2 separate regions of the Homo sapiens genome follow, and region 1 is linked to region 2. Evidence: fine-mapped expression QTL. A gene starts in region 2. The other region holds a variant in brackets. All regions are shown on one strand. Distances are between the middles of the regions. Region 1 has its middle 4.1 kb from the start of DSCAML1. Region 2 holds the start of FXYD6 (FXYD domain containing ion transport regulator 6).

Region 1 (5,371 bases), 75 kb before region 2:
ATAATAACTCCCCCTTCCCCTCCCCTCCCCCAGCTCCTGGCAACCACTATTCTACTTTGTCTCTATGAAGTTGCTTATTCTAGGTACCTCATAAGTGAGATCATAAAGTATGTATCCTTTTGTGCTTGGCTTACTTCACTCAGCATAATGTTTTCAAGGTTCGTCCTTTAAACGGGTGAGAAAATCGGGGCTTAACTTGTTCAAGGCCACCAAGGTTGTATCAGAAGCAAGACTAGAACCCAGGCCTCCCGACTCCAGAGCAGAGCTTGCTCTATAAGCTGCAGCATCCCTCGGTGGCTCAGCTCTTCATGCAAAATCACCACCCTGAAACAATTTGCAGGAGGTGTTTTGTCATCTGGAAACACAGGCATAGAACAGAGACGGGGGGACAGACTGCAGGGGGTGTTTGAGATGACCCAGACCGATCTTTTGCTTTACAGATAAGGAAACTGAGGCCCAGAGTGGGGAAGCCATGAGCCTTCCCCGAGGTCACGCAGGGAGTGACAGAGCCCTCACGTTTCCAGTCTTCTGTCTTAGCTCCCATCTCTCACCGCCCTCAGCCTGCTGGCTTATTCTTCTACCATGCCCCCTCCCTTCTAAAGGGAACGGTCATTGAGAGGAATCCAGTTATTTAAAACTAAGCCTATTGACCCAGAGCACCTGGTCAGGTCATGCCTAAAATAAACCGCTAAGGCAGACAGGATGAAAGGGGCTGCTGTCTGCTGGGAGGGGATCTGAGTGGGCCTGGGGTAGCGGCACAGCTGCTCCGTGCCTCACACGCTGGAAGTAGCGGTGGACCCTCTTCTTTGCATCCACCCCAAGTACCTCCTACAACCTGAGTGTAGGAGGCTTTATGCTAGTTATACACAGGGGGCTTTAAAGAACCACAACATGTGTGTTACCCGAAGGGCGAGGTCATTCATTGTGCCGGTGACTGCAGTCTGGCTGTCCCGGGAGGAGACATATACGTGGAAATAAACGGGTGGTCAGTTGGGGAGAGCAGACCTGGGGACCCCCTCTGGCAAAAGGAAGCTTTCTAATGTCATGGTTAAGAGCCTGGCTTTGGAAACAGCAGGAGATGAGTCCTCAGCCCAGCTCTGCCACTTGCCAGCTGTGTGCCTGGGAAATGTATGTGTGCCAAGCTGCAGTTTCCTTACCAGTGGAATGGGGACATCCCCAGCATCTGCCTTGGAAAGTCGTAGCGAGGATTAAATAAGACAAGCCCCATGGCTGACGCATAGTGAGCACAGGTAACTACCATGAATGGGAACAGCTTTGCTCACAAGGACCTTGACCTGTGGGAACTGGGAGGAGGGAACAGCTCCACTGGGGGAATGCTGGGACGATATTGTGCCTTCCATGCTGTGACAAAGCCAGAGCCAAGGAGCTGGGAATCCAGGAAAGGGGCTGCAGAAACACGGAAGGTGCACACTGAGGCGGAAGAGCCTGGAGAGATGGCTAACAAAAGAAGGACCTGAAAAACAGGCAGGTCAGGCCTCATGCTTTTTGTGTTTCCCATTGATTTTGTTCTTCCTTAGTATCTAGGGAAATGTCTTTGAAAATGACAGGTTGGCTCAGATGTATTTAGAAGTCTCCTCTTCGACAGGAGTTGTATTGGGGTGGGCAAGCCAGCATGCCAGGAAATCCCAAGGGAAAAATGAAACGCCGGGGAAGAGAGTCAGGCGGCGTGTTCTACCCCACGCCCACCTTAAACCCTGACAGTCCCCTCCCCAGCTGACATTTTAGAGGGGCTATATTTTGATAGAAGGGACAGTTCCCAAAATTATATGGAAAACTTCACACCCACACACAAATATATTCATGCCAGAGTGAGAACAAACACAGTTGCCCAGGCAAACATTCATGTGTACAGGTAAACATAAACACCTAATGACAGGCACACCTGTGCTTCAATGTGATTTGAACCCAATCCAGAAATTCTGCATTGGCACCTATGCATATGCTCCATTTTTTTAAGCCTCAAATTTGTGGGATTCCTTTCTAGTAGGGACACACTACCCATTTAAAAGCAGTGATCAGTTTTAATATTTTCTTGCATCAGAATGCTGGGTGATGATCTGTCTGTATTTTGGCTTTTGTGCTTTTGTTTTTGTTTTTTTTAAACAATGCCAGTTGAAGCAGCTATATGAAGTCACTGGGAGCTGAGCCCTCTCCAATTCAGGTTAATCATGGATATTTAGGGGGTATTATTTTGCCATGTTATATTAAGACTAGAGCCATCCTGAGAAACAGCAGATGTTTTTATTGTTTAACTCAAACAATAAGCTTATATATTTTGGATACTTTTCTTCAAAAACAAAGGCATAAAATTATTTTAACAATGGCTTCATATGCCCTCTGGAATTCTTTGACAACTTGAGTATAAACAGGGTTTTCATAAAAGGAATCAATACTGAACCAGGTCTGTGTGAAAAACTTAACTTTTGGTATTATATAGCTAATTCAAGATTGACCTTCTTAGTACTTACTTATCAGTTGGGGGAGGAAAAAACAAGGATCTCCCTGCTTCCCTCCCCAAAATTTATAATTGATTTTAATATTATAGAAAGAGTTCTCATCTACAAATCAGAAATCCTAGGTTCTTGTGTCACCTCTGTCTCCATAGCCAGCTGTGTTACCTGTGACAAGTCACCTTGCCTTTCTGGACCTCAGTTTCTTCACCATTGAGGTGAAAGAGCTGGGCTGGAATGATCACCAAGATCCCTTCCTAGGACCAAACACAAGGTAAATGCAAACAAATATGCCCATTCCCCCCTCCTACCCCACATAGGTGTATAGTGTGTACCCACAAATGTGTGCAGGCAGAGAAACAGAAGCTTTTATGCACAGATATTCAGAAACTAATAGGCACAAAAAATTACACAAAATAAACAGTTTTGGCTTCAAATATATACACATACATCTAAAATACCATCTTCTTGAGATGAGATGAATCAGTACAATTCATAGACTGTGATGCCTATATATAAAAAAATATTATGTGTCATTATACTACCCAGGTTCTCCTTAAACCAAAATTCTGTCTGCTGGGCTCAGAAGATGTCTAGGTATGCTTGCCACTTACTCTCTCATCATTTTGGATGATAATATTATGGCTCTAAGATCACTGGAGCAAAGGGTCTAAAGCCCTGGGGCTCCGCCTGTACAGATGCAGTCTCTGGGGTCCCATTGCCCTTGTTCAGGCTGCTGTCTCAGCAGTGACACCAGGATGGTTGGTCAGGGGCTGCGGA[A/C]GCCCCCAGCAAGGCAGGAGTCCCCTGAATAACTGTGGCCTCTCTCCTGCTGTTCTTTCTCAGCTCACAACTCTGAAATCGGTTGAGAAGCCAACCCAGAGAGGTTCCATGTAGTCCGGATTCGACAGAGCTGAAGCTCATTGTCACATTTCTCTCTGGGGAGCAGTGGGGTGGAAGGTATGGAAACTAAGAGAGATAGGAAAAAAAAGAAAGTGCAATGAGCAGAGCTAAACTTGCTGGCTTCCCAAGTCTTCCGGCATTTCTTCTGGCCCATGTGTCACTCACAAATGTGCTTATCAAATTTTATGAAAGTGTCTTCTACACTGGAAAACCTTCACCTTTCTCAAGTACCCAGTGCCCCCCTTTTTCACCTGTTTAAGGCTTCCCATTCAGCAGGGCCTGGTCAGGCACCCCCAGTTTTCCCTGACCAGGCCTCCTCTGGTCTCCCACTGCCTCAGACATCTACTTGGCCCATGGGTCTCATCCCTTTGTCTAGAATTGTGGCTATTTAGGCATGTGTCTGACTTGTCTCCTCTTCTAGACACTGGGCTCCGACCCTTTCGATTTGTACCTGCAGGCCCTAGCCTGGTGCCTCCTGGCTCTAGGGGTACACTCAGTAAGTGTTGATTTAATGACCAGATGGGCTCATTCTTATAAGGTAGCAGATATCTGATTACAGCCTCACGTGCCATGCCTTCCAGAGAGATGTCCCTTAACTAGGATCAAAGCCTTAAGCTTGAAAGTTCTCGTATTGGAGTTTCTCGTCTCTAAGAGTGAGCATTTGGCAGGACATTAGACCCCGCAGGAGTGCTGACCCCTAAAACCAAAGAAGTCTCAGCAGTTCCTGCTGAGCCCGCATCACTGTGGTCTTCACAGTTGTCATCTTGACCTTGTAGGCAGCGCCTCTAGGTTCCAGAGGCTTTATGTTTTCGTCCATTTCTGATTCTCACCTAAAAGGATCTGGATACATATGCCAGAATTGTTTTGATCATTATATAGATGAAGACACAAAGTCAGAGGAGTCCCAGAGGCATATTTGGGATGTTTAATACCATGACACTTACACAGCTCAAGCTTCAGATTCCTTTAGGGCCCTAGTAATGTGTTCACATGGTCAGATATGAAAACACTGTAGAATAATAGAGTTTAACTACTGTCAATCACAGCTGCTACCCTTTTCTGCTCTGGCTTCTCGGTGGGTCTGGTGAACATTTTGGGGGGATCTGACTCTGGCTTGGGATTGGTGGAATGTATTTATATGGTTCACAGGCCATGCACGTACTTCCAGGATAGGGAATGGCTTGCAGGAACACTCCTATCACCGACTGGGCCAGCTCACTGCGCTTTGTGACATGAAGTTGCAGAACCAGAAGTTGTATCACAGTATAACTGTGGCCTCAGGTGCCTGCACCAGGGGTGTGTGTGTAGCATAGGAAAGACAAGGTTTGAAATGCATGGAGCCAAAAGCCAGCTTATGTAAAGCTGTGAGCAGAAGTAACGTAAAAAAATTTTTTTTAATTTAGAAAGCATTTTTGAGGTGTGTCAGTTAATACAAATATTATGTTATCTGTCTGGATTTCATGATGGCATTTGTCAGTTTTTTCAAGATTTGTAACTTGTTGCAATTTCTTTTTATCTTTCTAAATTAATAATCACATTTGATTATTAATATATTAATGATCATATTTGTATCTAATTTTGTATTCATAATTGTGTATTGTTTTCCTTAGTGAGGCCTAAGCTTCCAGCCCTCAATGGTCTAAGCTTCCAGCCCTGCAAAACCTGAATCCGTCCCAGGAACTTTCCTTGGGTTACACTGTGGCTGGGGACCAGGTTCTCTGGATTCTGGTCAGGGCTCCCCGCTTGCCTCAGAGGTCTTAAGTCTGTATGTCAATCATGTATTTGTACAGTGCTGTTCACACAGAAGCCCCCTTGGAGAGATTTTCCTCCCCAGAGAAGAGAAAGTCAAGGCCCAGGCCCATGGTGGTGACCTTGACTTAGATGATGAAAGTTCTCTTCCTAGAAAGTCTGCCCATTTCACCACAGGCTGGACTTGCCAGTCCATGCGCTGGAGGATCTCAGGATGGGAGACAACTTGGTGCTGCCGTAACGCCTTCCAC
Region 2 (5,371 bases):
CAGGGGGAGAGCTGGGGCTAGAACCCGGCCTTTCCACAGCAGGCTCCCTGCCTCCTTGGGGCTGTGCCTTTCTTGACTGGTTTGCTTCCCTTAGGGTGCTCAGAAGGTGATTTGTTCGAAGGTGAATATTGGGGGGCTGCCTGGCACAGTCTGCCATCCAGATGGCGGCCGACTAAGTCCAACAAGGTTGGGAGGAAGAGAGGAGGTGCTCTTATTTAGGGGAGATTTCGGTGGGTGGACTCCCCCGAGGCTGTCGGGAAATTTCCAGGGTCTAGGAAACTGCCCTTTCTCCCCCATCTCCTTGCCACAGCTTCCAGCCTCGCCTTCCAAGAAAACATAGTGAAGCAGGCTCCTCGGTTGTACCCGCCCACTAAGGGACCCTCACTTTGGAAGGGCGTCCCAGTCACCAGCCGACCAAAGGCTCTCCCTCCATAGGTTTCCATCAACCCACCATCTCTGATGGTGACTGAGAAAAGAAAGCAAGGGTTGCAGGACAGGCAGTGTGAAGGCCAAAATCCTGGCCGAGGAGTTAGAAGGCCTCAGCGACTACTGGCCACGTGACTGCTGAGCCTCAGTTTCCCCCACTGTGTTCCCACTGGATGCTCCCTCAAGGCCTCTTCCGGCTCTGAGAAACCTAGGATTCCGATGTCAGGGATTGTGTCTCCCTCCTCACCTTCATGTCCCCAGCAATTAATACACAGTAGACACTTAAAACAGTTCTTTGAATGATTGAATGAAATCGGTCCTCAGGTCAGTCTGAAGATCCGATGGAAGCCAGGAAGGAAACGCTTCCCCCAGGCGCCTACCGTCTGTCAACCATAGAAGCCACACGTCTTGGGAGAACCCTGGCAAGCCTAGAGCCCTTTGCACACCCGCTTCCTCTCCTAGATGCACAGATCTGTTTGGAGGAGCCAGGGGGGAAGCAGGAAAACGTGCCAGGAAGAGAGGGTGGCCTGAACCCCAGGCAACGGCGGGTAGCCCTAACTTTCGCTTTCTTGACTCCTGTGGCCCCTCTCCTTCCCTCTTTCTGGTTTCCCTCCCCTTCCTGCCTCCCTGGCCTGGCCTCCTTGGCTTTCCTGGGACAGTAACCACTTTTCCTTCTCTCCTTTGTTAGGGCTCAGAGCCTCCGATGGTCCCAGAGCTGGCCTGATCCTCTGCTGGTGAGGATGACTCCCAGAGCCTCAGGCTTTCTCTGGGTCAGGGAAAAGAGCAGCGGCAGTGGAGAGATTGAAATTCTGGTCAGTGCCCAGCTTCTGGAGCCCAGCACCTGGGAATGGCTCTCGTTAACACCTGGAGCTCCGGACTGGGGCTTTGAGGAGGAGGGAAAAGGGCTGCGCCCACTCTTTATCCAACCTTCCCTTCCAGGTTTAGGGAAGGGGCTCCTCTTTTGAGGGAATCTGGCAGTGCCTTTCCCTCCACCTTCCTCTGCAGGGTTCCCAGGGAGATGTTAGGGTTTTCCTTCTGGGCTTCCTGAGCCTCCATCTCTTCCCCTCCACACCCCTAGGGAGGTGGCTGGATAAGGAAGGAAACTGCCCTCTCTCTCCCCTGCCTCAGCCCAGCCTGAGACTTATTTAGATGTACTGTGTGTGTGTGTGTGCATGCACAGTGCGCATGTAGGGTGTCAGTGTAGCATTGTAGCTGGTGTGTGGTGGTGCGGTATATATGCGGTGTGTTTGGTGTGTATGTGTGTATAGGTATGATGTATATGTATGTGTGGTGTGAGTGTGAGGGTGTGTTGATTGCGTAGTGTGGTATATGTCTGTATGTGTTTGTGGTGTTGGTGATGTGCAGTGTGTGTGAAGTGGGTGGTGTGAGTAAGGGGCCACTGCAATTGGGTGTAGGAGCCAGATATCTAGGTCTCCTAGCCAGGGATAACCAGTATCTAGGCAACCATACTGGGGGGAGGGGAGGAGATATGGAGGTGAGGAATGGGCAGGAGAAAGAGGGAGGCTGAGAAATGGAGGAGTTTCCATGGCAACGACCAGGCAAGTCACGTGCAAAAGGCTAAGTTGCGGACGTAGACATACACATCCATAATATGAGGGTGGCTGGATCCCCAAAGGGGGCTCCTTTCAGAGAGGGCCTGAGATGCCCACTGATCCATCTTCAAAGCTGGAAATCTTAGCCCAGCCAGACAGCACGAAGCCACAGAGACAAAGGAAGTAGTGGCAGAGAGCACACTGGTGGGGAGAAGCCTCCAGTAGCCACGGTCCCGCGAGCGTGCAGGCTTGCAGCAGGTGACGCGGCAGACCCATGTTTCCAGCGAGGCTGCTCCCAGCTCCCACCCTCGGGTGCCTCCTCTACCAGCCACCACTTGTAAGAGCCAGAAGCCAGCGCTGGGAGCTCCAGGCTGCACACCCAACTCTCCACGGAAGCCCGGGAGACACAATAGGGGAGGCTCTGCCAGGGCCAGCCCTGCTGGGGAAAGGGGGCAATGGCGGACCCCAGGGCCCCCCGGAAAGGAAACAGGATTGGATGGATAAGACAAGAAGGAGGGAAAAAATGATGCACTCTCATGAATCCCCGAGCGCTAGAATCCTTCTTTCCCTGCGCCCCCATCCTGTGCCCACTGCCCAGCCCCACCTTCCCCAAGCACCAAACCAGCAAGTTCCATTTTGTGTCGCTCATAAGTCCACACTCACACCCAGCCACACGCCCTCGTCCGTAATTCCCCACGCTCCACCAAGTGTCCACAGCTTCCAAGTAACAAAGGGAAAACTCCTCATGGATAAAGGGTGGGCGCAGCCCTTTCCCCTTCTCCTGAAAACCCTGACCCCAAGCTCAAGGCAGCACCGAGAGCAATTCCCAGCCACCAGCGTCACCCCCAGCGCCACAGCCTGCCTCCCCTAGAGGCTCCTCTCTCTTCCGACGCCGATCTCCTTGTTTACATCCCCAGCCCGGTTTCCCGCTGCCCAGGCGGGGACCGCGGCGCAGCTGACCGCGGAGGACCGCACACACCCACTGAACACACAAAACCCGGCGCTCCCGGCGCTCCAGAGATCGGTCCCCACCGAGCCTCGCCCCTCCTCGGAAAAAGGAGCCAACTTTGCCCACCTCCCCAGCCGCCTACCTGCACAGCCGGTCCCCTCCGAGACTCCCAGGAGGACCCGCCGAGTCCCGAGGAGCCTGGGAGTGGCGGGGCTGGGGGCAGGGCGGTGGGTGAGGCTTGAGCTGCTTTCCCGCCTCCCCTCCTCCTAGGAGTCGGGCTGGCTGGGAGGCGCGTCCTGCGGGGGCGGGGGGGGGGCTCGCTCGGGGCTGGGCTCGGGGACAGCCCACTCCGTGCTGCCGTCCGCTGGCTTCTGGGTAGCGGCCGCGCGCAGACCCCCTCTCCTCCTCTCCCTGTCCGTCCTCCCGCTCTGTGCTCGCGCGCGTCCTCTGCTCCTCTCTCCTCTCGAGGGGCGGAGAGATTTTTCCAAAGGGCAGTCAAGCTCCGAGAAGCAACAGGAGACTGCCGCCGAGGAGGCGTGCAAGCGCCGGAGCGGATTTGCCATCAGCTGTTGCTTTTCGGTTTCCCTCTGGTTAGGGTGGGAAGGGAGCAAGACAGGCACAATGACAGACCTGGTGTCTCTCTGCAATAGTAAACCCCGAGGAACGGAAAAATAGGAGAAAATAACCCAGCACCAGACACAGCAGCCCACGTTAATTGGGAGCCTTGGTAATTAAGGGGAATGTGCACCAAAAGCATGAATGGCTGTGTCGTGGGCGCAGGAGCCAGCTCCAGTTGTAGTTGTCATTTTCAGCTAGAGCCAGGTGGGGAGCTGGGGGGATGGTCCTTACCTGAACCATAGATCTGCTGCCTTGAACCCCCTTTTCAAGCCCCATCCACCTCTGGCCCTGCCAGGAGCAGTACCACCCCGTCCTCAGCCCAGTCCCCAAGAGTCAAAATTCATGATGACGAACTTTGAATGTGAAGATGTAAATAAATCCTGGCTCGGCAACCCTGCCTGTGACGCGACTTGGAGCATATCTCTGCACTCAGCTCCTGAGTCTATTTCCTCACGTGGGAAAATGGTGATTAGAGACTGACCCCATGGGAGGCTTAGCTCATAGTGAGTGCTCAAGAAATTGGCTCTTACTATTAGGGGCAGAGCTTGTAGGAAGGGGCAGAGGCCAGGCACAAGTGTCAGTAGCCAGGAGCCATGCTGAGATGGAGGCTGTCCAGCCTCAGTCAAGGTGTGTGTATGGCCGAGCCGGGTGGAGGGAGGAGCTACTGAGAAAGGCTGTGATTGTCCAAGCCTAGGTAGGGCCACGGAGAGTTCCTTACAAACCCCAAGCCGGGGATGATGGGTACTGCTAGGAAGAAACCTAGCCCTGCCTCTGCTGCCCTCAGTTCTGGGCCTGTTTTCTCATTTGGGAAAATAGGGAGATGGACTAGATGATCCTGAGGTCTCTTCCAGCTCTGCCCTAGATGATCTAATTATTTTAATAAAAGGTCAGGTCTCAAAACCCCAAGGCAGGAAATATACATGAACTCAAGAAGACTTTGGAACCAGTAGGGGAACCATAAATAGCTACTGAGAAAGAGCACCCAAAAAGCCTCCCCTCAGGGGATAGTTCTGGCCCCTTAATCATGGGACCTGGCTGAATGGATGCCACTCTGGCCCAGTCCTGAACTCCCTGGGGTTCCTGTGAATGCTAAAGCTCCTTCTCCAAAGCCAGACTCAAATCTTGCCTATTTGCGTGCCTAACCCTTTGCCGTTCCTGTCTTTTCCTCTATAAACTGAGGACAGCATTCCAACTGTCGTTTTCCCTTTTCATGTATTCTAGGTGGCAGATTTAAAACCACATCCCTTTCTAGGCCCATGTCCTTAGGCAGGTACATTCATCCCTCCAAATGCCCTTGAATCCTGCCTTTTGGCCATCTCTCTGTGCTTTTTAGAGCACCTACTAGTGATGACACGTCAAGCCCAGGCTTTGCAAGCCTATTTGGGAAAGGATAGTTCAGAACTCCAAAGCCAAGCCACCTTCTGGTTCAACCCCATTTCCAGCCAGAGAGTTCTGAAGTGTTTGGCCCAGTGACTTCCCAGGTCCCCCTACCTAATGCTGACCAGCCCAGGCTGCAGAGGGATAACAGGAACTAAATGTGCATGAGAAACCGCCATGGCTTAACTCTCAAATAGTGCTTCATCACGTTCCATCCAAGGGTACTGCTGGAAGAATTTGGGGTGTTACAGCTACAAAGCAGCACGCAAGCTTGTTCTGGGGTGAGTCACATCTCCCTTCTAGCAGGAAAATAAACACATCTACCCCCTGTGAAAAATGTGGGCATTCATAAAAAGAGGTCGCCAGCTGTTCCATTCTTTCAACCACGTATGGACAGGAGGAGCTACTCTTCACTGAGACCTGGGCCAAGATCTGAGGATATACTGTG

The links. PIP is the estimated chance that this variant, and not a neighbour inherited with it, causes the effect. A credible set is the group of variants that fine-mapping cannot tell apart.
Region 1: its variant is the best candidate, but not a certain one, in a credible set for the expression of FXYD6 in blood mononuclear cells (TOPMed, PIP 0.58).

Annotation. Positions count from the first base shown.
Region 1 is chr11:117,798,599-117,803,969 of GRCh38, forward strand. It overlaps a transcript of DSCAML1 not described here. Among named protein-coding and RNA genes, the nearest start is that of DSCAML1, 4.1 kb to the left of the region's middle. The variant A/C (reference allele first, on the strand shown) is at 3,252.
Region 2 is chr11:117,873,522-117,878,892 of GRCh38, forward strand. It overlaps FXYD6 (FXYD domain containing ion transport regulator 6), which reads right to left and starts at 3,137. Exons shown (of 8, transcript NM_022003.4): 1 at 3,071-3,137. FXYD6-FXYD2 (FXYD6-FXYD2 readthrough) reads right to left here and starts at 3,137. Exons shown (of 10, transcript NM_001243598.4): 1 at 3,071-3,137.